2 separate regions of the Homo sapiens genome follow, and region 1 is linked to region 2. The links come from fine-mapping of genetic effects on gene expression. A gene starts in region 2. The other region holds a variant in brackets. All regions are shown on one strand. Distances are from middle to middle. Region 1 overlaps PACRG (parkin coregulated). Region 2 holds the start of PACRG-AS3 (PACRG antisense RNA 3).

Region 1 (15,497 bases), 39 kb after region 2:
GATTATGTAGCTCAAAAAGGAAAAGTAAATGAGACTGTAATATTGTGATTATTTAACTTAGTGTACAGATTGATCTTGCCTTAAATAATTACCAATTAACTTCTACTGAAAAATGTAGTAGGTATGATTGTGTATAACATACCTAGGGAAAAAGAAGTAAAACAAAAGAACATTGACCGGGCGCGATGGCTCGTGCCTGTAATACCAGTACTTTGGGGGGCCGAGGCGGGTGAATCACCTGAGGTCAGGAGTTCAAGACCAGCTTGGCCAATGTGGTGAAACCCTGTCTCTACTAAAAATACAAAAATTAGCCGAGCATGGTGGCAGGTGCCTGTAATCCCAGCTACTTGGGAGGCTGAGGCAGGAGAATCCCTTGAACGTGGGAGGCAGAGGTTGCAGTAAGCCGAGATTGCGCCGTTGCACTCCAGCCTGGGCAAAAAGAGTGAAACTCCATCTCAAAAATGAAAAATAAAAAATAAAAGAATATTAAGGATAAACTAAAATACTGAGAATAAAAATGTGTGTGTCCCATTGAGAAAACATTTTCTGAGTGCCCACTGAGCTCCACACACAATGGGAAAGCAGAAGAAGGATGGAAGTAGTAGAAGCTTGCATTCTAATGAGAGTGTTAGACGACTCGACTGTAATGCACAGGAAAAAGTAAATGCTATAAAAGAAGAAGCCTAAATCAAGGGTTACAGGAGGATTTAATTTTGGAAGAGGGAACAGGAAAGAGAAAGTGGTCAGAAAAGGCTTGAGGTAGACTGCTTTTTGCTGGCTTTAGCATGTGGTGGGCTTTCGACTGGCTGAGGACCAGAAGAAACATGCTTAGGGAGAGGGAGCTGGTCCACAAACAGGCAGAATGGCATGCATTATGAAGATGTGCCTTGCTAATTGAATTGCTTTTCTAAACAGTGGATGAAAAATAAAGTAGAAACAGAGTGATTCTGTTAGTCAGGTTCCCTGGAAATGGGCTCTGAGTTGGAGATTCTTGCACAGAAATAACGCCTATAAGAGACTGAGAATGCTATCCTTATCAAAATTCCAGTGGCATTTTTCACAGAAATAGGAAAACTATCCTAACATGTATATGGAACCACAAACACCCTGAATAGCCAAAGCAACGTTGAGCAAAAAGAACAAAGCTGGGACCAGGCGTGGTGGCTCATGCCTGTAATCCTAGCACTTTAGGAGGCCAAGGTGGGAAGATCACCTGAGGTCAGGAGTTCAAGACCAGCCTGGCCAATATGGCACAACCCCATCTCTACTAAAAATACAAAAATTAGCCAGGCACAGTGACAGGCACCTGTAATCCCAGCTACTCAGGAGGCTAAGGCAGGAGAATAACTTGAACCTGGGATATGGAGCTTGTGGTGAGCCAAGATCATGCCACTGCACTGTAGCCTGGGCAACAGAGTGAGACTCCATCTCAAAAAAAAAAAAAAAAAAAAAAAAAAGAACAAAGCTGGAGTCACCACACTGCCTGATTTCCAAATACACTACAAAGATATAATAATCAAAACAGCATGGTGCTGGCATAAAAACAGACATGTAGACCAAATAGAACAGAATAGAGAGGCCAAAAATAAATCCACACATTTATATTCAGCTGATCTGCAACAAAGCTGCCAAGAACATAACACAGGGAAGGGACAGTCTCTTCAATAAATGGTATTGAGAAAACTGGATATCCACATGCAGAAAAATGAAACTGGGCCTTATCTCACAACATACAAAAGTCAACTCAGAATGGATTGAAGATTTAAATATAAGAGTTGGAACTGTAAAACTGCTAGAAGAAAACATAGGGGAAAACTACGTGACATTGGCCTAGGTAGTTTTGTTGTTGTTGTTGTTGTTTTTGATATAACCCAAAAGGCACAGGCAACAAAAGCAAAACTAGATAAATGGGATTATATCAAACTAAAAAGCTTCTGTACAGCAAAGGAAATAATCAATAGAGTGAAGAGATAACCTACGGAATGGAAGAAAATATTTGCAAACCAAAAATCCTATGAGTTAATATACAAAATATATAAGGAACTCAAACAATTTGATAGCAAGAAAACAAATAACCCAATTTAAAAATGGGCAAAGGATCTGAATAGACATTTCTCAAAAGAAGACATACAGATGGCAAACAGGTACATGAAAAAATGGTCAGCATCAGTAATCATCAAGGAGATGCAAATTAAAACCATGATGAGATATCTCTTCACACCTATTAGAATGGCTAATATCAAAATGACAAAAGATAGCAAGTGATGTGGTTTGGCTGTGTCCCCACCCAAATCTCATCTTGAATTTTAATCTCCATAATCCCCACATGTCTAGGGAGAGACCTGGTGGGAGGTGATTGGATCACAGGGGTGGTTACCCTCATGCAGTTCTCATGATAGTGAGTGAGTTCTCACGAGATCTGATGGCTTTATAAGGGGCTCTTCCTCCTTAGCTCCTCACTCCCTCTCTCTCACCTGCCACCATGTAAGGTGTATCTCTTCCACTTCTGCCATGACTGTAAGTTTCCTGAGGCCTCCCCAGCCATGCAGAACTGTGAGTACTTTATACATTACCCAGTCTCAGGTAGTATCTTTATAGCAGTGTGAGAATGAACTAATATAGCAAGTGTTTGTAAGGATGTGGAAAAAGAGGACCCTTACGCACTGTTAGTGGGAGTGTAAATTAGTACAGCCATTATGGAAAACAGTATGGAGGTTCCTCAAAACGTTAAAAATAGAGATACTGTGTAATCCAGCAATCCCACTTCTGGGTATATAGATGCAAAGGAAATTAAATCAGTATGTTGAAGAGATACTGCACTTTCATTTTCATTGCAGCATTATTCACAGTAGCCAAGACATGGAATCAACCTAAGTGTCCATCAGTCGACGAATGGATAAAGAAAATGTGGTACATATACACAATGGAATACTATTCAGCCTTTAAAAAGAAGGAAATTGGCTGTGCACAGTGGCTCATGCCTGTAATCCTAGCACTTTGAGAGGCTGAGGCAGGAGGATCACTTGAGTGCAGGAGTTTCAGACCAGCCTGGGCAACACAGCAAGACCCTGTCTCTACCAAAAAAACAAAATAAAAAGAAGGAAATCCTCTCATTTTCGACAACATGAATAAACCTGGAGGACATTATGCTAAGTGAAATATACCAGTCACATAAAGACAAAAACTGCGTGATCTCACTCATATGTGGAATCTAAAGTCAAATTCATAGAAGCAGAGAGTAGAACGGTGTTTAGCAGGAGCCTGGGGAAGGAAAGCGGATTGGGAGATGTTGGTTAAAAGGCACAAAGTTTTGATGAGACAGGATGAATGAGTTCTGGAGATCCACTGCAGTCTGGTGACGCTGGTTAATAATAATGTATATTTGAAAATTGCTAAGGGAGTAGGTCTTAAATGTTCTCACCACAAAAACATGAGAAGCATGTGAGGTGATGGATATGCTAATAAGCTTGATGTAATCATCCCACAGGGTATGGCGTACATGTGTTGAAACATCACATTGCGGACTGTAAATGTATATAGTTTTTATTTGTCAGTTAGGCCTTAATAACGCTGGAGGTGGGAAGAAAGAGGAAGAAACGGCTGGGCAGGAGAGGTTAGACTGCCTGGAGGAGGTCCCAGGCAATCTCCACTTGAGGCCAAGGGGCTGGGGCTCTGTGCCTATACATTAGCCAGCCCATGCAGGCTGCTGGAGGAAGGGGTAACCTTGAGTGAAGCAGCTCCTGTCTGAGGCAGAGGGCAATTCCCAGGGTGAGACCCAGCCATCGGTGGCTCACATCCCAGTGCCTGGGGAGAACCTGTTCTCTAGGAGGGTTGGGGCAGTACTCAGCAGCAGCCTCCACCGTGACCCATGATGTAGTAAAGGATAAACTCCAAAAATGTTTGAAAGTGTTTGCATCATTGATGTCTATTTTAATTAAAAGAGCCAATGGGATTAAAAATCATGGTAAACTGATCCTTTGTAGTTCATAAGTGTGATGAGTAGGATTTCACACTCATGTGTGAGATATGCCTCCCTCAAACCTTATAAATGATGATGGTACGTTAAAAAAAATAATGGTAAACCACATAAGATTCCACGGGAATTTTTGTGGCATGTAAAAACATGACTTCCTGCTTGTATTAGGCCATTCTTGCATTGCTATAAGGAAATACCTGAGGCTGGGTAATTTTTAAGAGATTTAATTGACTCCCAGTTCTGCAGGCTGTACAGGAAGCATTGTGCTGCCATCTGCTTCCCAGGAGGCCTCGGGAAGCTTCTACTCACGATAGAGGGCGAAGTAGGAGCACGCACATCACAAGATGAAAGCAGGAACAAGAGGGAGGTGGGAGGTAAGGTGCCACGTACTTAACAACCAGACCTCACCAGTACTCACTCACTAGGGCAGGGATGGCACCCAGCCATGAGGCATCCACCCCATGACCAAAGCACACCTCCCACCAGGCCTCGCCTCCAACACTGGGGATTCCATTTCAACACAACATTTGAGCGCGATCAGATATTCAAACTATAGCACTGCTGTTCTAATGAGTTAGAAGTTGAAGATGCACCAATATATGTAACGGAAAGATAACGAGAGGACTGTAAGCCATTCCCATGGGTGTGCCGTCCTTCATGAAGGAGCAGAGCCAGCAGCCTACCCATCGTTACAGGACTTGCACTGAGCCAGGTCAGCAGGAGCAGAAACAGCTTTATACTGATGGGGACTACAAAGCTTTAACACCCAGGTCCAGCAAACATTCACCCTTACACCCAGACCCTCATACACGTTTGCAAGACTGGACAAGATAGGTCTGCCTGTTCCATTGAGACGAACTGCCCTCCCTGTGGCGAGAATGAAACCCACAACTTGGGTGTTATTAGCACAGCCTCTCATCAAATTGACACCACCAGCCATAGGTTATGATAATAAGAAAATAAGGCAAATGCAGCTAAGCTGATATGTCCAAGTCGAAAAAACTAATTTCAGCTTAGAAAAACAGCACACTAATGAAGCTTTTAAAAATTAACTTGTGATTAAAGATCATACAGACAGGCAGTGTTGGTGAAAAACCACAATGAACATCAAAACAAGCATGAGTTCAGAGTCTGGAAATGTATCCAGAAGGTTATTGTTTTTAAATATACAGAGAAGACACATATATTTGTTTCCTGTTTAAGATATATATGTATATTAGAAAACAAGAAAATTATTTTTTTTTCAATCTACCACTAATCAGTGTGACAAAAATCCATGACCCTCCAGGAATTTGACCAGCTCTCCAGGCAATGGATTCTTCAAATGAGAGCAAGTTGAAGTACTTGTGGTATCAGAAGATGTAGTCAGAGTCCCTGAGCCCAGAGGGTGTTCTTAATCTACGCCTGAAAATGATTGAAATGGACATCAGTGGAGGCAGATAAGCTTTGGAAATCTTTAAGCAGGCAAAAAAAAAAAAAAAAAAAAAAAAAAATGGAATAAGTAAACCTAGAAGAGTACCTGGCACACAGCGGAGGCTCAACATGTGCTGGATTAATTCATTAATTCATTCAAAATTATGCTGGCGGTCAGTTTATGACAAATAGATTAAGATAGTGCACGGGTGCACGGCCATTAGAGTATGATTAGTAAACCAACTTTATACCAAAGAATTCCTTTTTATGGAAAAAGTACAGTCACTTTTTTAAAACTTTCGGCAATACTGCAGAAGTAAAGGAACGATGGTGAACGATCATGATTATTTTTGTAACATTTCCCAAAGTAAAAATTTCAGCTGAAAATAAAAAGAAACCTTTATAAATTGGAATAAATGCAGACTGGAGTGATTCTCTAGCACAGTGACCAACATTTGGACACATCACATAAGTCTTAAAGGTCGCAGAATGAGTCTAGTTATATATGTTTTTCCATTCCAGACAGCTTGAAATTTACTGTCTAATTCAAAAGTCCAAAACTATAAAACTCCTGAAAATAATCTTTCCAAATGACCAGTTTACTTTCTCCCTGGACCTGAAAATAGGATGGAAGGGAAGTCTAATTCTGAGAAAGTAGAATCTCCTTCTGATGTTTTGTTTATAAAAATAGTAAACATTTTACTGAACCAGAAAGGGCTAAATTTCATATCTCAATTTAAAAGTATTTGCAGGCCAGGCATAGTGGCTCATACCTGTAGTCCCAATGCTCTGGGAGGCTGAGGCAAGAGGATCACTTGAGTCCAGGAGTTCAAGACCAGCCTAGTCAACATAGTGAGACCCCCGTCTCTACAGAAAAGTAACCAGGGGAGAGGTGGTGCACACCTATGGCACTCAGGGGGCTGGGGCAGGAGGATCACTTTGAGCCCAGGAGTTAGAGGCTGCAGTGAGCAATAATCGTGCCACAGCACTCCAGCCTGGGTGACAGAGTGAGACCTCTGCCTTCTGCCTCTAAAAAAGACAAAACCACCACCACCACCACAACAAAAAATCCAGTATTTGTGATCCCTTTCAAAGCACTGATTCTTCTGCTTCTCAGAGCACTCAGATTGCATCTGATCTTTGCTTGCCAGAATCATCATTTTATGGTTTAGCAAGGAGTTGTCTGCAGGCTTTGCTCCAGTAATGGTTCCAAAGACATTCAGCCACAGCTTGAATAACCTGCACCTGAGCACAAATGTGGCATTCGTAGTCAAGCACCATCGTTCCCCTTCAGTTAGTTAGTCTCGTGACTTTTTTAAGTAGTAATTCCACACCTGTCAAATGCTGTTGGAAGAGACCCTTGAATAGTTCTAGGAGAACCCTCCTCTGGGAAGAAATTTGGGACAGAAGAATTTTTCTTAAGAAGGAAGAAAAGATGGATGAGGAAAGCGCTGACTTCCTCTCATGAGGACCAACAGGCTCCACAATTCCTTTAGCGGCAGTTGTCAGCAAGATGCCCAGAACTGTCTCCAGGCGACAGCAGAGGTCAATTTCAGGTCCACAGAGTCCCACTAACCTCCTATAATTTAGAACCTAATTCAATTGTAACCTGATGGTGAAATTATTCAACAGTTTGCTTCTGGGCATTGAAATAAATAATAAAAAACAGCAAATTTAATACTGCCATTGTTGACATTCTCTACAGTGGCATCAGAAACGCCTCAAAGTCCTATTTACTTCCAAGTGGCCATCTTCATAGTACATTGTCCTTTGTGAAAGCTCTTTGCAAAGAGAATGTACGTCTATATATGTAACATTTGCACCATGCATTACAGTTTTTAAAGAGCTTAGCAAATATGAATCTTCTTTACTACACAGCACTCCTTTAAGATAAAGCATTCAATAACCAATTTTTAATCTCTTCATTGTAGCACAGGTAACTGTGTCCTTATGTTAGGAAATTATGCCCCTTAGAATACCAGTTATTCCAATTTATCAGCCTAAAATGTATATGGAGTACTTACTGTAAGTCTACATGCATAGAATTTTTTAGTGTAATAAAATATTCACTATTTAATGGACAAAACATCCGAAAGAGATCCTACTTTCTCAGAATTAGACTTCCCTTTCCTCCTCCTATTTTAAGTTCCAGGGAGAAAATAAACTAGTTATCTGGAAAGCTTATACTTAGTGGAGTTTTATAGTTTCGACTTTTGAATAGACATTAAATTTCATGCCATCTAGAATGGAAAAACATATATAACTAGACTCATTCCACGGCCTTTAAGACTTATTTGACGTGTCCAAATGTGTCCAACTATGTGTCTATATGTCTGTTTATTGCTGATGGAAACAGCAACAGTAATTCACCTTCAAAATCCCTAAAACGTGGTTGAATAAACAAATGAAGAACGCAGGATGGTGTGTAATGCCGAACTGCTGTAGGTGCAGAGTTAGGGAGGGAAAAACCCGGAAGGTTATCAGAGCCTCCAACATTCAGAAAAGACTTCCTGGAGGAGAGAGGCCTTCAATTAGGCCTCGAAGGACAGTATTTGGAGAGAGAGGAGGAGGTAGGTAAGGTGTCCCTGCCAGTAATTACAGCCTCGTGAAAGAAGCCTGCGGGACAGAAATGAATATGGTATTGAGATGGCAGAGGAGAGAGGTCAAGGGTGCCACAATCTTCAGGCACAACTAAGAAGATCCCTGCAAAGGCA[A/G]CGGCTCCTCTGGGCCAGCAGAGAAAGTGGAGACCCCAAACAGGGGCTCTCAAGATAGGATGGGGCTGCGGCTGGGAGCGGCACCACCTTTGGGAGGCTGGCAAGGTGGGCAGGCCCACGGGGGAGCCGTGGCTTGCTGGCTGGGGTTTCTCCTGCCAGCAGCACTGGCGTCCTCCAAAATTGCTTCCTGCGGCTTTTCTATTTCTCTTAACTTCATCCACTGTCTTTTCTTATGTCCTGTGACCCACTCACTGCCATGCCACTGAAAATGCTGTTAGAACAAGAAAACAGTAGTCTGTGTCATGTTAATCACATCCTGCTCGAACATGGCCAGAGTTCCCTGCCCATACCCTTTATAAAGCAGTGGACAGTCCCCAGATGGGCTTGCTGGAAGTCTGCACCGGCGCTGCATGCAGGAGAGCCCCGGGCTGCTCTGACCACAGTGACATGCCGGGTTGTCACACCCTGCACGGATGCAGACAATTCCATACAGATGGATCAGCAACTTTGCAGGTCTTCACAACTATGAGCCCAGATCCGCTGAGCCAGGATGCCTCAGCAAAAGGTGACTTCACATAGGGTGGCTTGAAAAGGCAAGCAATCCTGGCTGACTGCATGCCTTCCCCAGGACCAGCACCCACCAGGTGACTCCTTTTACCCTCAACAAACTCCATCTGCCAGTCAGAGCCCCTTATCCATGAGCTTGCATAGTTTCAGAATCACTCTCAACAAGCAGAGATCCATTTGCCTCTCTGAGGTGGGACCATACAGGTGCAAGAGCCTCTCCAGACCACTGGCTGCAGGTTGGCCATGATAAACAGCCTCACCCAAGAATGCTGAGCACGCAGTTACTGTAGGTAAACAAGTCCCGGCTTCACTCTCAGCTGGAGCTGGCACTACGTTGGTATTTATGTAATGCTGCATTGGCAGATATTTCATCTGCAGTATATGTTGAAATGGACAGATAATTATTTAGAACAAATAAAATAAGCTACTTCTGAAGATGACTTGAAGTGGGCACTGACTTGCTGGGACTCTCAGGCCAGCCTCTACCACCCAAGGCAGCTCTCTACAGAACACAAAGGTCCAGCCTAGAAGGGAGTGGCTGAGGTGAGTGCCTCAGGACAAGCCAACACAGTGATGTTCATTCCAGGAATATTTATGATGAAGAGAACCCAGGAGAGCTGAAGATTAGCGTCACACTCTTATAATAGAGAAGAGTTCACCTGCACCAGGTGCCGTGTCCCGCTGGGGCCTGGCTACTCCAGAGGCTCCTCCGCTGCTGCAATGTGCCCGAGCCCCAACCTGCAAGTCCTCCTGGTAGAGTAGCTCTTAGCTCCAGCCTGCGTGTCAGACCAACGCCCACACTTTGTCCACTTCTTACTTTGTTTAGTAAGAAGGGAAGGGAAAAGGAAGAAAAAGAGGAAAGGAGGAACAAAGGAAGAGGAGAAGGAAGAAGGCAGTGCAGTAAGGGAAGGGAAAGGTGGGAAGGTGTGGAAATAAGAAGCAGAGATGAGAAGGGGCAGAGGAAGGTGGCTCTGTGGTCCTGGCCTTGTTCATGGCAAAACACACTTATACTTTGAGGGTGTTCCGCTTCCCTAAGGCACACCGGGGAAGGTCAACAGGTTCCTGTGGACCAGCGAGAAGAGGAGCCCTGTTCAGGAACAGCAGGCAATAGGAAGAGACAAAAGTGATTGATTCCCTGAGGTGCCAGAGCAGGAAGAACAGTCCAGGCATGGCCTGAGAGCAGAGCAAGGTAAAGAGCACGCCTCACCTACCCCCCAGCTCACGCTCCCAGGAGGAGGCCCTGGCCCTGCACAGCCAGCCCCTCCACCCCTCCTCCAGGAGCCTCCACCCCCGAAACCAGCCCTCAGCCCTCTCCCAACTCTGCTCCTCCAGCTGAAATACTGCCCCTCACACCAGGGCCGCATCCCTCTGGGACTACAGCTGGAGTGGCCCTGCCAGTGTAGCAAAGGGCATCTCTGGGGAGGAGATGGTCTCAGCAACTTCAAACACATTTTCTGTTAAGTTTTCTCTTGTATTGTGATGTTACAGAACACGCTCAGCAGGAATTTGTCCCCCAAGAAGTATTCTTTGCTGCAATCCATCTTCAATTCACAATGGGAATAACCTGCTCACTATCCTTTGTATTTTTCTCACCTACTTTCATGTTTTCTACATCTCTGTTAGGAGATTTAAATTATTTAGGGACAAAGCTGAAGGTGTGTGAATGGATGGATGAAGAGATGGCTGAACTGATTGATGAACAAAAAGTTCACCTGCCAGTAAAAACAGAGGAATGGAGTAGAATGCAGGAGGCCGGAGGCTGCAGGGGCATTTTACAGTTGACCTAGATGGTAATTTGGAGAGAGAGGGAGAGAAATGACACCAGCCTTGAACTTGAGAGATGCCATTTTCTAAATTACCCTGTGTGGCTAAATGACTTTTGCATGCTAGCCCAAAGAAATAACTGCCATGCATTTCACTGTGTGAGAAAACATATTATGAGTTCAAGAAAATAAGAGGAAACATTTTAACATCAAGATGGGAAGGGATAAAGACAGTCCAAGAGGCCGTGGAGGGGGCAGGATACAGCTGTCCACATGAGAAATGGCAGTGACTTCTTTGTGTTAGGGGCAGAGGAGATGGAGAAAATGGAAATATTTGAAAAATATTGAAGACATATAAAGGACAGGTCTTAATAACACAGAATTGTGAGTGAGGAAGTAGGATGAGTAAAAGATAACTTCTGGATTTCTGTTCTGAAAACAAAATTCTGGAAGGGGAAATGGAATGAGGAGCACGTTTGTAGGGAAGGAGGGAAATTGTAAGTTGCACTGTCCTTCATTGTTAAGATTTCACCAAATGAGAGACATTCAAATAGAAATATTCCCTAAATAATAAGACATTTTGTCTTGGGGCTCAATAAGAAATGCCTGGTGGGAAGTAATAGATTTTATTCAGCCATTTAAGAGTGTTCAGGTCTTGGGGGATAACTATCATCATTAAAGGAAGAGTACTCTTGTCATTAATGATGGAGATGGTCCATAGAAAGTGACACAGAGCAGGGACAGAAGATGATCTAGGGTGCAGTTCTGAGTCTCACCCTCTGCTATAGTTTGGGTATGGTTTGGATATAGCTTGTTTGGCGCTGCCAAGTCTCATGTTGAAATTTGATCTGCAATGTTTGAAGTGAGGCCTGGTGGGAGGGTCATGGGGGGTGCAGATCCCTCAGGAATGGCTTGGTGCCATTCTCAGGGGAGTGACTTCTCATGGGAGTGGGTGAGTTCTCACTCTTAGTTCCTGCAGAAACTGGTTGTTGAAAAGAACCTGGCAGCTCCTCCTCTCTTGCTTCCTCTCTGGCCATGTGATCTCTGCACACACCAGCTCCCCTTCGTCTTCCACAATAAATGGAAGCTTCCTGAAGCCCTCACCAGAAGCAGATGCTGGTGCCATGTTTCTTGTATGGCCTGCAGAGCCATGAGCCAAGATAAACCTCTTTTCCTTAAAAATTATCCAGCCTCGGCATTCCTTTATAGCAGCCCCAACAGACTAAAACACCTACATTTAAGGGACAGACGGCTCCCAAAGGAGACCAAGCAGATGTAGCCACAGATGCAGGTCAAAAACCACAGGAGTTTACTTCTATGGGCACCAAAAGAAGAATGTGTTTAAACAAAGAGAGCAGAGTCAAAAATTTCTCTTGGAGGCAAAGTAAAATAAAGGCTGAAAAATGTCCATTGAACTGAGCAACAATGCTGTCTTGGGTAAAGCAGTTTTCATATAGAGGTAAAACAGAAGCCAGATTATAATGGGTAAAAAAATAAATGAGAGTTGAGGAAGAGAGCAAGTACAGGCAACTCTTTTTAAAAAGTTGATTTTGACGAAGGAAAGTGGGGCCAAATGTTGGTAACGTTTTGGGTTAGACAGAGACTTGCTAGTTTTAAGACGAAAAGACACGACTATGTTTAAATGAAGAAAGATATGAGCTCCATGAAACTGAAGGTACAAAAAAGAAAGGCTATAATCTATTGTACAAGGGCCCTGAGGAGGTGGGAAGACATAGCGGAAGAATTTGCCTGAAATGAGAAGGGGCTCACCTCTTCCATCGTAAGCCGGCTGAATGGGAGTTGTGGGCATGACTCGAGCAGTTCAGACGCACCACATTTCCTGCTGCTCTCTAATATCCCCAAACCTGTCATATTTCCCCTTTTGCATGTGACAGTCTAATGATAATCCTGAAGCATATACAGATATATTTCTTCTCCATTGATAAAGCATCATATAATCTTCTGGAGACACAGGCTCCATTAAAATAATTTCTCAATTTCCCCATTGTACGTAACTGCCTTCCATGAAGCTTGCCACTAAAATGTCACTTGACTGAGAGGAGGTGGTGTTGGTGACTAGAAAATGTATGTCTTGAGAGCATGGTGTTCTTTTACTTGTGGAATATGAAATATCTGCTTCCAAATTCCTCAAGGTCCTTCTCCTTGGAGAAGGGGTTTTCCTCTTGCCAGATCATGCCATTCATCCCCTGTGTTAATGTCTATAGACTAGCAAGGAAATGTGCCTAAATTCAACAGCTTGCCAGCACCTAAGAGAAATTATCAGAAATATTGTCCACTTCCTCTTATACATTTCTCTCTGGAAAATTTTTTCAATTTCACAAGGTTTTATCATCTATATTATAGGGATTTGTTTTTAATTCTTCACAATTTCCTTACACTCCTCCAAAGGAATCTTTAACAAGTACAGTTCTCTTTTTCAATTCTGCCCTTGGTGAGTCAATTTATAGTGTGGTTTGATATTTTATTATTGTCAAATATTGCTTATAAGAGAGAGGCTTTGGTTTGGTAACAACTAAACACTAAAAAAGAAAGGAAAAAAGTTGTTTTTTTTGTTTGTTTTTGTTTTTTTAAAGAGAGGCTTTGGGAAAACTGGCAAACTTTCTGCTCTTCCAAAGGTTACTTGTTATATGACTGATCTCCAAGCATTTATTTATCTGAAAAAATCTGTTTGTGATTCTGCCTATGTCAGGGCAGCAATGGCTACAAGATACTTTGAAAGATGGTGGGATATGCCACACAGGGTATGGCATACCCTGTATGAACCTCAGGGTAAATCATGTTAAATAGAACTGTTCTCCTCCCATCTGCCAAAGCACATTTATTTTTCTTCAAACCAAAATGTAGTTTGACCTCCAGGTAGGTTTCCTAAACAACCCTGCCCTTCTCCATTCCTCCTAGTGCCACCTTGAGCTGGCCTTCTTCTGAATACTCTTTCATTTATTGGTAATTGTGACTCACTTATGTATACTTATGCTTTGCTAGCTTCTTTCCCCCTTTGGAAATTAATCTCAGCAGAAACTGAGTTGAATCTCTTCTACGTATTCCTAAGCATAGCTGTCCTTTGAGCACTCCATAAATATTTGTCTACTGACTGGTTGAAGATTTAGTCTCACACAAGTGCAGATGAACTTCATCTCATTTTAGAACTCTGATGGGAAATATGACTGTGTTACACAAGATTCCGGGTCTTTTCCTACCCTCGGGTGAATAAAGAGCCATAATCAATTACAAATGTCTGCTATGGGACTGAAAAGATGGCAAGAAGAGGTGGAGACTGTGCCGCTGTACCAAGAGTTTGCCACTTCGTTTTAGTGGGGCATTGAATGGTTGATTGTATTAGTCCGTTTTCACACTGCTATAAAGAACTACCTGAGACTGGGTAATTTATAAAGAAAAAAGGTTTAATTGACTCATAGTTCTGCAGGCTGTACAGGAGGCATGGCTGGGGAGGCCTCAGGAAACTTACAATCATGGCAAAAGCTGAAGGAGAAGCCAGCTCATCTTACATGGCTTGAGCAGGAGGGAGAGAGCAAAGGGGGAAGTGCTACACACTTTTACAACAACCAGACCTCATGAGAACTCACTATCATGAGAACAGCAAGGGGAAAGTTCCGCCCCCATGATCCAATCACCTTCCACTAGGCCCCTTTCCCAACATTGGGGATTACAATTCAACACGAGATTTGACTGGGGACACAGAGCCAAACTATATCATTGATGGTTTGATACAGGCTTTTGAGATACGTAATGTGTAGATATTTCCTTTAATTACTTAGCATGATGAATTTCATCAAACCTAAATATATATCAGTGGTTTGATTGGCTAGTTGGTGGGTGGGGTTTTTTTGGCAGGGGGTGGGTTTACCCTCCATTTCTTTAGTCTGACAGTATAACTTTTGGTCACGTGATTGTTCCATAAAATATATTGGGATTGCATACATCCTAATTTGCAGTAATTTTATTTTCTTGATAGACACAGTCTTCTGTAAATGGATTTTTATCTTAGCAAGTATTTTTTATATACATATTTTCTACCAACATAGCTAATTTGACTAGATGTTATTAAATAGGGAGAAAATCTAGCTCTAGTTCATGTTTTCTCTTGCTTAAGGAAAACAAAAATGCTCAACTTTTGTTGAAAATGAATGTAAGGCCAACGGTAACATTATTCAAAATATAATAATGTCCTTTTTAAGATAAAGTAAATTGGAGTTGTCTCTTTGTCACCCCAGTTACTGTCTCTAAGGCCACATTTCTGTTCTCATAAGATAGGTTATATGAAAAGAAATTGAAGCACCATAAATTACATTAGTGTAAGGTCACAAATTAATCACTTTATAACCTATTTTCTCTTGAAAACTCTTTCTTTATAGAAGTTCTACCAGAAAATGGCTCACACTATTGAACTTAATAGGTTATTACTACATGTTTTGCTCAGTATTCTAAGCCAAGTCATCAGGAAAAGATTATAGTTACCAGTTCCCATTGTCCTGTTTGACATCAATGAAAAGATGCTTTACTTATATTTTCATGTGTTATTTATCCTGTCAGAAGATATATCCATTTTATATGCAGCTAAAGTTCCTGGGGCTTTTCATTAATCAACTAAACACAGGATGTGCTTGAAGGAAGAGCTGTGGAAGGGAGTATTGCCCCACTGTGGAAGGGAGTGTTGCCAAACCCTTTTAGTAAAACTGAAATTATATTTTCTTGGTTAACTGAAAAAGAAAATGTTAATGATGGTGTGGACTAGCATCAGAATTAATTTTACTCTACAATTGAATTTATGGTCAAAGTGTCATATTCCTATTATTTAAGAATGTTTTGTATTATATCTTAAATAAAATTTATTAGCTGAATAAATATTTATATGCATGATATAATGGAATAAAAGAGGGAGCAATGGAGACTTTATTTCAATAAGTGAGTTTTATATACAACAGTAAATAATTAAATCCAATTGATTCCAGAACTCATAAGGCACTTCTTTTATAAGGATAAGTGCAGTATTGGTGTTAGATTGAGTCTATAACTTATAACAGT
Region 2 (15,497 bases):
GTAAATCCTGTACATAAATTGTTTCTTTAATGCTACATTAAAGACAGTGCATCTCTTTATACTGTCCATACTAGCTCAGTAACACTGCCCCTGATAACATTTCATGTGGCCATGACAAATTATGGTGAAATTTTCAGTGTCCAATTGGAATGGAAATTGCTAGAAAAAAGCGGTGCCTAAATAATGGTGCAATTCTATTTATTCCATTTCACTAAGAATTACTAAGGGCTTCGAAAACCCAAATCGAAAAAGGAAGCACATAAACAATGTTCGTATTGGCCATACTAGCTTGAATGTCTCTAATTGTTCTAAGTGGTACAGGTGCTATGAGCTCCTAAGAATATCCCTGTGTTTGAGAGGAGTTAACTCAGAGCCTTGGGTTGCTTGCTGTCCTGCCGCACTGCACGAGAAAGGTTAGCAACATAAAGAAATGCAACTTTGCCTACTTCAGGCATTAATATAAAGAAACCTACGTACAGGCACCCAGAGACACAAAAAGAGAGAGAAAGCTCACCATTCTTGAAAAAGGCAGTTCTGCAGGCTCCACAAACAAGTACACCAGTGAATGGGAATGATAAGAGGAGAACAATTTGGTTACATTCAGAGACCTGGTGGGCAAATGGAAATGGGACAAGCAGTAGAAATTAGGCCAGATCATGGAAGATTTGTTTTGTTTTGTTTTCATGGCATGATACCTGCAAGGCCAGGAAGGCTGAAGCCAGAACACCAATGCAATTAATTAGCAGAAACCAAAAAGTAATTAATTTAGCACACCACCATATAGGGCAGAAGCAAATACTGCTGTTTGTAGCCAGGGATGGGGAAAGGATCTAACCACACTCCAGGCACCTCTGCACATGGCACCACAGAGAGAAAGATGGAGGAGGAGTGCAGCCGTACGCTGGGAGTCATCACAATTGTTTTTTTACCGATAAAAGCAAGTGGGAACAATTGGCCAAAACAAGCCTGGATTGTAGTAGAAAATTAAGCTAAGAAAGAAAGATCAGGGGACATTGTGATAAAACAATCCACGTAATTTCTATAACATGGATCCAGCTTAATAAGATGTCCTGAAGTTCAGCATGAGTAAAGTTCCAGGACAGTTCAGGGTTGTCATAGGAAATCTACATTTTTCAAATTAACAGGACTTAAAGATGTTACTGTTACTTCAACACTTGGTAAATTTCACTGCAAATATATAAGCCATTTTAAAGGAAAGTATTAGATAATCAAAGAATTCGTTAAGAAAAAGAACAAATTGAGTGCCCACAATATAAATGGTGGCCCTGCTGCAGATTAGTTCCCGATGCCTGAGATAAGATGCTGGAGGAAATCGCGGCATCATCAATTTAATCCCACACAAAATGCAAGCGACCACCTTAGCTTAGTTGCAGTTGTGGTGGGCATGAACTTCACAGGGGCATAATTGAAGGCCAAAATTAAATGCTCTTTATTTCTCTGTATCTCCGTGTAATGTCCTGATCCTGAGCCCCAGACTGCCTCATGGGTCCAGTAGGGATGCCTCTCAGCAGGTTGTGCATCGGGAGAATTTTGCTGCATTGAGCTCCAGAGCTGCTTCCCTGTGTCTCCTCTCCCACTGCTGACCCCACCCCCATCTACTCTAAGCCCCAGCAAATCACCCCAGCACTCCCAGGCAGTGAGTGGGGGAGGGCGTGCCCCCTCCTCTCTCTGTTTTGGTCCAGCCTATATGTCACAGGGCTTCTTTAAACAGTGACTGGGCCTTTCTGCTGGCCTTCACTTAACTCTCAGCTCAGCTTGCAGGCACCCTCTGAGACGCAGGCACTGCCCCCTTATAGAATCTGCATAGTGGGCTGCCTAGCCAGGGGGCTTCGTTGTGTGGCCTTTTCTCTGGCAGGCTTTCAGATTTCCCCCTTCCCCCAAGAATGGAGCCAAGGGGTGGACCCCAACATAGCCTGCTGGCTGCAAAGCTGCACACGCCTGGAGAGCTGCTGTCCAATGGCAAATGGAAGCAACATTCTCATTGTCTCCACTCTCAGACACCCTCAGATTACTGAGGGAATTCTCTCGTGTGCCCCCTTCAACACACAGGCAGACACAGATACACACACACAGACACAGACACACACACACACGCAGACACAGACACACACACACAGACTACTTGTCATTCTAAACTTGCCACCTCTGTCCTCAGCATGGGGCCAGTGTGGTGGAGAGGCCTGTTTTGCCTGGCTGTGCCCACAGTCTCATCTCTCCCAACTTAGATTCTTACTAAGAGTTGGAACTCTTGATTCCTCTGGCCGCTTCTGGCAGCCTCTTCCCCTGGACACACCCTATCTCCCTGCCCAGTGGAGCCGTCGCGTGCAGGTGTGCATCTCTCACTCCTGCCGGACCAGGCGCTCCCTGGCCCCATCTCACAGACTAAAACATGAGGCTGTTCCTTTGCTTCCGAGTAGTTTGATGTCATTCAACCCAGCATGCATTTCCTCTCCACCGCTCTGCTCCCTCCCTGGAGGTGCTTCTGTTCCTACCCGCTGAGGGGCACAGTCAGGAGGTATTTAGTCGGCCTCCCGTCGCCCTCACCGCACACACAAGACCAATTTGACGGTTGTTTGGGGGCATCCACTCCTGGGGCTCTTGACATTTTCCCCGGGCTCTGCGCCATCAGCGCCCTTTCCTGCCCCCACTTCACGGGCTCTGTCTCCTCTCCAGGCACCTGCTCTGCAGGGAGGGAGACACCCCCCGTCCTCAAGCTCCACAGGGTCCCGGGTAATTTCATCCGTTTCCCTTCCCTATCAGTGGCTCCCAAATCTGTTTTTCTCAAAGTCTGTTTTCCTCTGAACACCAAATCACAGTTTCAACTGTATGTGATACAACACCTGAACCTCAGGATGGCCTAAATTGAACTCATTATTGACTTCTCACATCCGCTCCTCCGTTGTATGCCCAACATCCCTCCATAGACTGATCTGTTCGCGGCCTCTGCTGGAACCTCAGTGTCACCTTGGACGCCACCCTCGCCCACCCTACCCACGCCAGTCAGTGCACCCAGGCCTGTGCAAGTGGCCTGTGAAAGGCTTCTGTGCTCGCCGCCCGCCTTTCCAGTGGCTCAGGACTGGCCCCATCTCTTTGCAGCACTGCTGAGAACGCCTCTCAACTGAGAGCCCGCGCTCCTCCCCTCCATGAATGTATCTGCTTTCCACCCCAGACTTCATCATGGTGCTGCAACGTTGACAGCCCCGTCACCTGCAGAACCATCCAAACCCATCGGCAGCACACAGAGACCCTGCTGGATTTCCCAGCCCCGAATCCCACCTTTTCTACTTCACCCTCTTTTCTACCTCACTCAGTGGGTTTCCCATCCCAAAGTGGATTCTCACCTCCATGGTGTATCAAAGTCCTACTCCTTCTCCCAGGTCCAAAAGAGCTTCTCTGGGGAGGAACCCCAGCATCCCAGGCCATGAGTCAGGACTCTCCTCCAGCACTGCTGTGACGCGGCACGTGACCCCACCTGCGCACTTAGCACCTCCTGTTACGCGCCTGTCCGCTGATCTGCGCCTGTCATCACGTGAAGAGCTCCAGGGAGGCCGGGCTTTCTCCCAGTCCCCTTTATATTCCTCGGGTCTAGGGCATGCCTCACACTAAGTCAATACCAAATAAATTGTCCACTCTTCAACAAGGCAGGAAACATGAGGGGAGAGTTAAAAAGTCCCAAAATGAGCATATCTCTTTGAAACACCCCTTACAATATTAGTTTTTAAAATTCTACTTGTTGAGCTATGTTGGAGTTGTGTGGGTTTATATGAGTATCTTTTCCTACAGGGAACTATGTGATCTGTGCAAATAGAGTCCCCACACACAGGACTGGTTTGCATCAGAACATCGGGGAGGCAGGAGCCCCAAGTCAACCATTCTTTGTATAGAAAAAGCTCTCCCAAGTCACTCTTTTCTTTGGCATGTGCATAGTCATCTTTTACCAAATGTTTAGTCAGTATCAAATTCATTTGCTACTGGAAAACCTGTTTTGATGACAGTTGTTGCTAAAAACCTGTACCTGATCAAAATGATTGAGCTTACTAACTCTAAATTAAGGAGTGTCTATTTAAGCCCCCGAAGCTACAGTAGAAAATCTAACGTCATCTCTTAGAGGTGAGCTTGTTAAAATACTGACGTGATGCCTTTGTGAGTCCACCGTCTCCTTTATAAGAATCAGGCCACTGATCCTCAGGCCTGAAGGCTCATCTCTTGGGAAATAGAGGTCACACCAAGGGTTTGGTCCGTGAGTGAGAAGGTCGTCTCCAGCCTAGAAAGGTGAAGACTCTTTGATTCTACAGTTCTAAAGCGTGGCCTGACCGTTTTATTTTAGTGGCCTTTCTCACACTTTGTCTAGTTTCATTTTTGTTACATAATCTGCATAAAAATTCCCTCAGTAGTTACAATTGCAGTTTAGTTCATGTCTGACTTGGTGTGTCGTTCTGTTGTGTTTGAGATCTGAAAAACTGTCGTCATTGCCCATCCAGATAGCATTCAGTAGAGGGGAAAGGATTCCTTTGTACAAAGCAAGCATGGGCTTAGGATATTTCCACATACTATTCATTTGCAGACATTGACTAAGAACAATTAGGAATGTACGCTAGAACGTGAAAAACATCTTTTACATTTGGATCCATCTTGTAAGTGACCAACATACTTTTCTTTGAAAAAATAGAGCCCATACGTTTGTGGCCTAACAAGACATGAGAGGATAATTGATTAAAATGTCAAAGGTGGTTGGGGAATGCTGAGATGGAATGATACTGCAGGAAAGATTTCGCAAAAACAAATTAAAGTGGAAATTACAATTCATGTATAAAGCCCGTTTGTATGATCAAAGCAGGCATCATCTGTACTGCTAAGTTCTACGTATAACATAGTTTTGTTAAAGAAAAGTCAGGCATGAGATGGACATAAGGGATTTGCTGACAAATGCATAACAGCTCTAATGACTAATTTTGGTTTTAGTTAGTGCAATTCTGTAGGTGGACATTTAGCCAGTTTGTTAACAAGGTGTTTTAAGAATGTCTTCCAGGACAATTTAAAAAAAGAGAGAATTATCTTCTCTTACAGAACAATGAAAAACAGAATTATCTTTCAGGGATGGATGTTTATTACATAACCTATTGGAGAATAATGGAAGGGAACTAGATGCCTTATGCCCAGCTTATTCATTATCTGATACCTTTAAAGGCTGAATGGCATTGCCAATTATTCATTGTGGCAGGGGCTGCCATCAATTTTTAGCTTACAGATTGCTAGTTTCTCCCGTGTTCTCTTCCATGAAACAGCAACATACTCCATTTTGTTCTCTATTTAAAAATTTTACATTGCAGCCCTCCAACAAATTAATTCCATTTAGGTTTCTTCGGGAAGAGATACAAATGAGTTTTGTGAAAGTGTACTTAAATGCAGCCATCCAGCCATCAGCATCAACAGGCAGTCAGCTGTGCCCAGTGCCATGCGCCTGATGCCCGTGACTGACAAGGGCCCGCATTCACTGTCCCGGGCTTATGTGAATGCTGACACACTGGTCACCGCAGGGCATACTGCTTGTTGCTGCTTAGTTCATGCTTGCACGGGCAGACCCCCAGGTGGCCTGTCATTTATTTCTATAAGCTAGGTCTGGTAACACCACAAAAGCAGTAACATTCATTTATATGAAGGAGAAGTACATAATCCAAAAATCAGAAAAATTACTTCTGATAGAAGAAACTAGGTTTCAAATGCGGGTCTTAATAATACAACTGGATTCCGATTGCATTACATTGGTTTTCTCTTCCAAATAATTGGCAAATGAGGACAAACAGCTCATCCCCATCCTAACAGGAAGGTCTGAATCTGAAGCCTTACCATCGGTGACTCATTAGGACCCCATTAAGAGCCAGAAAACTTGCCTAAATATAATACAAATCGAATCTTCAATGAGGACTACACATTTGTAAACTAAATTTGAAGTCCCCAAACATTTACAAGTACATTTGTTCTTCATAAGTACAGTCGTAAAGAAAAGCCCAGTCAGTGACAGTCAACCTTGAGCAACGTTGGAATATGAGGTTTGAAAGTGAAAATAGAGGTCGGCGCACAATCTAGTTAGTGCAGAGTTGCATTAGACACAAGTAGTCAGTGACCCCGATGCACGGAGGAAATTCTGAAGGTTCAACATCTGTCTGAAAATAATCGAAAGGCCCTGCCTAGCAGCACAAGGGACTTTCAAGAATGGGCTTTCCTGTAAATTTTGGATTTCTTTTCTTAGAGAAGGTAAAAATGACCTGCTTTCTACTTTTCTTCTGATTGGACTGCAATGGCCAAAAATATTTATAAGAATAAAAGTTAACAAAAACAGTCTAACCCGTCAGTTCAGAACCCTAGTAAAATTTGTTTTGGAGCCTAGAACTAGAATTGGGCAAAAGTGTAGGGCTCTTTCTCTTATACCAAAAAGCCCACTCAAATGTTCTGTGAGCCCGCTCCAAAGATAAAGTCAGAAACAACTTAACAACTTCGTCTTCTTTCACTGATTACTTCCCTCGTGTTCTGTCTATTGCTGATGATGTCCTGACAAACAGCTCCAAGCACACTCACCCAGTGCCCGTGTGCAGCATGCAGACCACTTGTCACCCAATCCATTTCTGAGGGATGACTGTGTTCCTGAAACAACTGAAATCAGAAATCCCTTATTTAGCATTTATTAGAATACTGAATTTAAAATATTACATATTATCATTTGAAAAACAAAACAAACAAACAAAAAACCTGTTACTTAGATTCAAGTTAAAAGAGGGACTATGTATTCACCCTTAGTCCAGGAGAACAGCTTAAAATATGAGCACCTTTTCCTAAGCCATTCCACTTAAATGGACACTAGACCTCAAAATTGCAAACAATAAATACATAAATAAAAGCAATAATTAAAAAACTAACTTCACCATCATCCCTTCCCGCCACCCCCCAAACCTACTTCCTTCCCAGGCTTCAGATGAAATTTCTATGAATGATCCCACCCAGTCTCATTCCTCAGCTCAGTGTCAAGTTCCAGTGTCCTCTGATCTTCCCTTTCTCTGACCCCCACACCTTTATGGCGAGTGGCCCCCCAACGCCACGAGGCCTTTCCCCTTCACTGCTATGGCCGCTTTCTGCACCACCCTTGGGGGAGGTCACAGCCTCTCTGTGACCTAAGCTCTCTCCTCTCTAAAGAGAAGGCATCCACTTAGGTGGTTTATAGGGTTTCTCCTAGCTCAAGGATCTTGAGTGTATCGTTGAGCTAAGATACACTCACGAGCTGAGACCTCCTGACTCAGGCACTGTGGCTGCACTCCACCAGGTGACTTATCTGTGGACCACACTCCACGTGGCCATCTGTGCCTATGCTCTTCCTCCACCCATCCACCAAAATGCCATCTTCTCCACTCCCACTCAGAGCCATGACGTCCCTCTGCCCCCAGGTTGTCCAGGATCCTCTCATCTTCCATTTCCAGCCACCTTTTTTCTCTAAACCCTGTAACACTTCATAGGAGTCCCTCCCAATGAAAGCCACACCCCGCCTGGTGTCTCACACCCCAAAGCAGACTGTAAGCTTCCTGAAGACTGTCCTGCTCCTCAATGTCCCATCCCCTCCCGAACTGACCAGCGGTGCTATCTACGGGGAAGCACCGGGGCAGTTGTTGTTGAATTGATTTCAGTTAATTCAGTTTTTAACTGAATCACACAAAGGATGTCACAAGCTAGCTTTTATAACTAAAGAAAGCACAGTTGTGCAGCTGCCTCCAGAGTCTCTGGGGGTTAGAGGGAATGAAATAGGGAAAGTCCCCAGAAGCCAGCTGACTGCTGCTCAAACCAGGTGCAGGTTGGGAGAAAATCTGTAGTGAATGAAGGAAAATGAAATGCACAGTGGAAAAGAATACCAACATTCTTGCAAAGGAACCTTAAAGTATTATTTTTGCAAAGAATGCAAGGATTATTTCAGTTCCCTTGTTGACTGTTTTGTATGGTCTTCCTACAGATACTTTCAGAAAAAGATCTATTGTTTGTTTTTCTCTGTGCTGACACAGTATCCATTGTTTAGAACTGTAATCATAGCACACATAGTTGAAAATGTGGGCTCGGGGACAAGCTGTATTTTCCCCTCTGGTTCTTTAGACAGTGAATACTGTGTTCTTTATCTCTTATCACAGCTCTTTTGTCAAACATTTAATGATTTTTTCCCCCAGACAAATTTGTAGTTTGTTATCAACCATAAAAATGTCTATTGCCTTATTTTTAAACATTTAAACTTTGGTAAGTGTGTCTCAAGATGAGCATGAATTAAGGTGTTTATTTCATTTTAAATACTTTTTTTTATCATAGCGTACAAAGCTAGAGTTCTCTGACATGGATGGCTTATGTGGATCTCTATTTAGACTTGATGAGAGAACATTTTATTTTTGTACTGTGTGTATTTGCAGGGAAGATGGTTAGGCTGACTGGCTCCCAGGTTGGGTGTGTTGGGAGCATCTGTCAAGGGTTGGACAGGTGCAGACATCTGTGACGTCCTGCAGTAGGCAGCCATCACTCGATTTCCTGCTTAAAAAGATCTGACACACTTCTTCACTCCTTGGATCTCCATTTTTTCCAAATGCCCGATACTTCTTACCATTCTACAACCCTTAAACCGGATCCCAAAGTCTGTGAGAGATAAAAGCCTTTTTTAAACCCAATAAACAGTCACTCTTTGTTGTTCCTGGTTTTAAAATGACAATTTATTGCTTGATACAGACATTTGAAGCCTATAATTCAAATGAATATTTATAAAAATAAATTTCAAGCACACTGGCATGTAACTGCAGGGTAATTTTTAAATATTCATTTTTAAGGTGGTGATAGAGTCTAGAAAAATTTTAATGTGCCACGTTATATTTTATAAATATCCAACTATAGAAATATGCCTTGTGTGCTAATCATTTCCATAAGGCTTCACTTAGATTGAGAGAGTGAAAATGGGTGTCAGTCTTTCAAATATCCAGAGGAAAAACTTTCATTTTGTTTTAAATTTGTTTTTGAGGGCTGAATTTAAACTTAAGACAATGTATGAAGAGTTAAGGTCAGAGTTGGTACTTTCACCACTATTCCATTTGTATTGCTTTAAATTCTCTGATTAAGTGTGGAAAACTATCAACAAGGCGATTGTTCCCAGGGGCTGCCCGGCCAGAAATACCGAGACTGACCATTTTTAAGAACCCAGTGCTATGTGCGGAACAGGGCGGCATGGTGGCCTCCTGAGAACTGGGAGGGAAACACTAAATGAAGACGTGAACACATGGGATTTCTTTCTTTCTTTATTTTTATTAAATAAAAAATATTTTTATTTTGTTATATTGAACTCGACAAATTTTCCTCAGAGATAATTTTTGTTTCAATATTCAAAGTTAGAAATTGTACCAGCCCGTCATAGTTTGAAAGTATTCCTAAAAGTAATTCAAATAAAAATGTATTTTAAATGTAGTACACATTTTAAACATATTGGAGAAAACATAGAATCAGAGACTTTTTCAAATCCATGTTGGACTAGGAAACTGTTTCTTTTTGTTTCTTTTTTTTTTTTTTTTTCCTGAGATGGAGTCTCATTCTGTCACCCAGGCTGGAGTGCAGTGCCGCGATCTCGGCTCAGTGCAACCTCCACCTCCTGGGTTCAAGCGATTCTCCTGCCTCAGCCTCCCGAGTAGCTGGGACTACAGGTGTGGGCCACCAAAGCCGGTTAATTTTTGTATTTTTAGTAGAGACAGGGTTTTGCCATGTTGGCCAGGCTGGTCTCAAACTCCTGACCTCAAGTAAGACTGTTTCTTAATACTAATCAGATTTGACAACAGATGAGGCCATCTGTGATGGAGGTTCTGCGCCCGATTACACATTCCCCTGTAGCTCATAGACTCAGTGCTCCTTTCTACAGAGGAGAGATTCCATAGTCAGTGTTCCTGGGGTTCTGTTTTTACTTTTGAAGTTCCAGAACTTAGTTTCAGTTCTTCCTCTTGATGTCTCTCTTTTGTTCTCTCCCCCTCTCTCCCTCCCTCCCTGTCTTTTCTCCTGTCTCCCTGTCACCCTCCTTCCCTCCTTTCATATCTTTCTTTCTTCATCTTGTTATTTCCATCTGTCTGCCTTTCCCAAGGCAGGAAACCCCGGCGCCTCCAGGCTGGTGGTGTCTGGCTCTGGGCTGCACAAGCCACAGGCCACCTGCCATCAAGCACAGAATGGACTTGACGGGGACCCTGACAGCCAGTCATTCCTGGGACTAGATAGGGTGCAGCCGGGGTGTCCGAGGTGTTTGTAGTCATAGTGGCATACCTACACTGAAGAGGACAGCTTTTTTGTAAGCGGTGGTTGCTTCACTCATCAAAATAGCCTATTTGTGAAGGCATCAATGTGCAAGTATTTTGGAGCAAGTAAAATCAGTCCTGGAGATTAGAACATGCAGGCCTACTGGGCCACAGGAATGGGGCTGCCTGTTGAGACTGGAGTGCAATGCCCCCCAACCCCACGCCTGCTGTTCTTCCCTCTGCTCTTCTCCCTTCCCACCTCCTTCACTCTCCCCTCCTTCCCCACGCCCCTCCCTCCCTTTTGGTCATCAGTGCACTTTGCAGGCATCAGATATTTGGGGCTCTTCAAGTGCCTCCCCTCTACATCGGTGTCCACGGGCTTGCTGAACAGTGAGCCTCTCCTCCCTCCTGGGACTGGTCCTCTTCAACTTGAGCCTTGATCTGGAGTCGATGGTAGAGGGAGTCCACTTCTCTTGACCCCGACTCTCACCATGTCAAAAGGAGGTGATGTTTCCAAAGGTAGCAATTGAAGGAGCCTCTTTATCCCCCCATAACAGAGAAAGCATCGGGGATGCCTTGGCCTCTCAGCCACGCTTTGATGATTGGCATTTGATTGTTCTCACATTTCATTATCGTGAACCACTAATAATGTTGGCTAATTGTTTATTTCATTTATAATTCCTTAAATCTCCATCTAGTCTTGAAGCTGTTGCATCCAAAGAGAGTGCTGCCAAAGAGAAGTTTAACCACAGGTGCCGCCCTGACCACACTTCCAAGACTATCTCCTCATGTGGGTTCTCCTTACATCATACATTTGACCGTGAAACCCATGAAGACAGGCGTCCAATGGAGAGGAGTGTTGGAGGCCTCTTCCCTTTCCACATGGCCCTAGAGCCCAGTGTTTTCAATGTGGTGTGACTCCCTTTTCCAGCGGCGAAATCGTTCCCCCGCTTCCCAGAAGTGTGCTTTAAAGACATTTTGTGATAAGGGAGTGCAGGTAGGAAGGGGTCTAACCTCCCCCAGGGCTCCCTGCGCCTCGGCGGCTGAGGAGGTGGCAGTGGAGGCCGCCCGACCCCCCTCTCAGCCTCCCTGTGCTGCGTTCCCTGCCCTGCCGGGAAATGGAGATTCTGCGCCTAAAGACACACAGTCACGCTGCTTTCAAAGTTTCAGTTCCCACGGCCATTCTAAAATGGCCCCTGGAGAGCTCTGGCTTCCTCCTGCGCCCCTTCCCGCGCCCGCCCCTGGGTGTCTCCGCTGGCTCCCCAGCATCTCCTCCCAGCTCGGGATCTCTCTCACTCATTCCTCCCTCCCTGATTCTCGCCTCCATTCTCCCGCTCTCCAGCAGGGCGCAGCTCCCTCTTGCTCTTTCTGGAGAAGCAGGGATCCCAGAGACCCCCTACGAGCTGGTTCCCTCCCAGACCCCGTCCCTCCAGTCGCTGGCTCAGTTTCCTTCAGTTTCCTCCAGCTCATCTCCTGCCCACCTCAAAAGCAACAGGTCCAAGATCCCAATCAGCATTTCTCGCACAGCGTTTCCGCGAGAACGTTCCCTGATCATCTAGAGTTAGGGAAGTAGAACCGTGCCCTGCACATGATAAGCACATGGAGACTCTAATCAATGAGAGCTACTATGATTGCTGCTCACGGACAGCGCCCAACAGCTCTGTTGTCCCTGCTAATGACACCGTCGTCCCTCCCCTGGTCAACCACGACCCAAATGTTAAAGTGACCTTTCACTCTTTTCGCCAACATGTATCCGCTCCAAGACCTCTCCTGTCCTAGGGCTACTGGGAGCCTTACCTGTGGCCTCACCTTGCTGTGCAGCATTGGGGAGTTGCTGCTCTGCACCTTAGAGATGTCAAATGGGAAGAGTGACAGCTACTTCAGCAGGGTTTGAGGCAACATTAGGCAACACAGTGTAAATAAATTACATAACAATCTGCTTGGCACTTAGTGATGGTTCAATAAATGTTACCTGTTGTCGTCGTTGGAACTGTTGACAGAATTCAGTGAGACTTCAGTGATGGTTTCTTGAAAGAGTCACTTATCATATTCTGCAATCAAAGAAGGAAGAGAGGCCAAGAAATAAACAGATACATGTGCACATGACACAAGACCCAGGGTGAGCAGATGTTCAGAAGACAGAGCTAAAGAAAGACTAGAGAGACAGACAGACAGACAGAAAGACTAGACAGACAGACAGACAAATAGATAAACAGGTAGAAAGAAAGACTAGACAGATAGACAAATAGACAGACAAATAGACAGGTAGATAGATGGATAGACATGTAGACAGACTAGACAGACAGACTAGACAGATAGATAGATAGATAGATAGATAGATAGATAGATAGATAGATAGAGGCGGACAGACAGCTTGGTAAATGGGCAAATGATAGAAAATATAAATAAATATATGAAGGAGGGAGAAAACTGAAGCAGAAAAAAAGTAAGAAGAACTCGTGGTCATTTTACTAAACTTTTAAAAACTTGAACCTAAAATTTTCAAGATAACTTTTTTCTGCCAGGAAAAAATACATATATTAGTAGAATGTGTCAATACCTGATTTTTTCCACAGTAAGAGCATTTCCCTTTGAATACAGTCATAACTGGTTCTCCGTTAGTAGTAATCACAGCTCATCTCTGTGGATATTGTTGGTGCTTTCAGTTGCTCCAGTACACATCTATTTTGAAATCACCTTTAGCTATAAAGGAAGAAAAAAGAAATACCATCTGTAAATGCTTGCTCTAGAGGTGTGTCATAAAAGTACAGTCCCATTAACCTACTGTCCTTATGAAACTGGTGGCTATTTTCTTTTCTTTTCTTTTTTTTTTTTTTTTTTTTTTTTTGTGAGACAGGGTCTCACTCTGTTGCCCAGGCTGGAGTGCAGTGGCGCGATCTCGGCTCACTGCAAGCTCTGCCTCCCGGGTTCACGCCATTCTCCTGCCTCAGCCTCCCAAGTATCTGGGACTACAGGCGCCCGCCACCACGCCCGGCTAATTTTTTTTTTTCGTGTTTTTAGTAGAGACGGGGTTTCACCGTGTTAGCCAGGATTGTCTCGATCTTCTGACCTCATGATCCGCCTGCCTCGGCCTCCCAAAGTTTTGGGCTTACAGGCCTGAGCCACTGAGCCCGCCGGCTATTTTCTATTCTTATGTTAAATGTTCTCTCTTTACCTTCCATTTTAAGGGAATTGACAAGGGAGCAATTCAGAGCAGGGGTTATCTTATCTTTCAAAGGAACAGAACTGGCCACATCCCAGTAGAAAGTAGAAAGGATAGCATCCCTGTCCATGTCAGGAGCACAAAACAAAAAGTACAAAAATTGTGATGTAAACCACTTGAAACTTACAAGGCAGTACATAGGGATATAATGACTTCATCATCACTGATGCAAAGAGAGGTTTCTAGATACGTGTTTATCTGTGAGCCCCAGGTCCCCGCTAATCTGTGCTGATGTCTTGAGGAAAATTGGAGTGAGAGTAAAAACTTTGATTCACTCACATACTTTCCTTTTTCAAGTAGGCATTTCAGTCTAGCCTTGGACATGCATTAACCAAACGACTGGAACTAGTTATTCACTAAAGTGACCACAGATTTTTAATATAGTCTGCATCAACTGTTTTGATTATGAGAATTTTACTTCTCTTTTCTTGCTAATATAATGAGTCAAGATAGCTCAGTAAGTTAAAAAATATTCAGAGTTTGATTATTTGTTTATCATTTGTTCAAAAAACACCATCAAATACCTAGATTGTGAGATAAATGAGGAAATCATAGCACCATCTCCATACTGCTTATGCATCAGGCACTTGCTCTCAGCACTTTACATGTGTGTGTGTGATTTACAGTTGTGTGAAGTGGATGGTATCATTGTTCTCACTTTACAAATGATGAAAGTGAGGCCCAGAGATGTTAATTTGCCCAGGGTCACACAGTGAGAACGGGTGGATCGGATGGGCACCGAGGTTGTCTGGCACCAAGGATCTGTGTTCCTGTTTTGCTACATGTAGAAAGTGTGTTGCCTTGCCCATTAATGAGGTCCCAGCATCTGCCCCGGTGTTTGATAATAATAAGGGCTTAATGATCGTGAACCCAGAAAATCTGAGACAGGTCTCAGTTAATTTAGAAAGTTTCTTTTGCCAAGGTTGAGGACACGCCCATGACACAGCCTCAGGAAGTTGTGACGACGTGTGCCCAAGGCGGTTGGGGCACAGCTTAGTTTTATGTATGTTTTAGGGAGACACGAGACATCAGTCAGTACATGTGAGAAGTACACTGGTTTGGTCTGAAAAGGCAGGACAACTTGAAGCAAAGGCAGGAAAACTCGAAACAGGGAGGGGCTTCCAGGCCACAGGAGATGAAATGAAAGGTTACATTCTTCTGAGTTTCTGATGAGCCTCTCCAAAGGAGGCAATCAGATATGCACCTATGCCAGTGAGCAGAGGGTCACTTTGACTAGAATGGGAGGCAGGTTGGCCCTAAGCCGTTCCCAGCTTGACTTTTCCCTTGAGCTTAGTGATTTGGGGGCCCCAAGATTTATTTTCCTTTCACATGATCATGTACGGAATAAAGAAATAGATGAACACCCATGATGTTCAATGTACTCAATGAAGCTCTGAGTACTTAAAGAATAAGAATGATAAAATGTTTCCTGCCCTCAACTAAATTGCAGGCTGATTCTTGCAGCTTGAGCTAATTCATAAGAAACTAGAGATTCTAATCCACTTTCACCAGAGGGCCTTCAGCTAGGACAGAGGCTCCTCCAGGGTTTGTGTCAGCCGCTGTTCCAAGTGAAAAGTAGTGCTTTGTGTCTATTCATTCCTTCAAGGCTCATGACAACCCTATAACCCAGGGACTATTATCATCCCGTTTGCCTGGGGAGGAAACCCAGCCACAGAGCAGGCAAGGACCTAGGCCTTGATCACACAGGCAGGAAAGAGCTGATCCCAGATTCAAACTCAGGCAGTGCAGCCCAGGAGGCCTCACCCTTAACTGCCAAGCTTGGCCGCCTCTCAGGCACCTAATACTTCCCTGGAGGAGTAAATGGTGGAGGTGGGGATAGAGAATGGCCAGACTGAAACTCCACTGAGAAGGATGCCTGGGGCAGAGCTGTCTTCCTTTGAACTCCTCGCAGAACTCATTCTTTAACTTAGCCCCAGAGGCAACCACAATTCAGTGTGGTTCTTTTGTTTGTT

What was found. PIP is the estimated chance that this variant, and not a neighbour inherited with it, causes the effect.
Region 1: its variant is fine-mapped to the expression of PACRG-AS3 in lung (TOPMed, PIP above 0.99).

Annotation. Positions count from the first base shown.
Region 1 is chr6:163,222,938-163,238,434 of GRCh38, forward strand. The region is part of intron 4 of PACRG (parkin coregulated); the gene reads left to right. It also overlaps the pseudogene LOC124901548. Among named protein-coding and RNA genes, the nearest start is that of PACRG-AS3, 39 kb to the left of the region's middle. The variant A/G (reference allele first, on the strand shown) is at 8,104.
Region 2 is chr6:163,184,311-163,199,807 of GRCh38, forward strand. PACRG-AS3 (PACRG antisense RNA 3) reads right to left here and starts at 7,692. Exons shown (of 4, transcript NR_122120.1): 1 at 7,571-7,692; 2 at 6,598-6,672; 3 at 515-608. All of the region lies in intron 4 of PACRG (parkin coregulated), which reads left to right. RefSeq lists an enhancer at 1,824-2,394.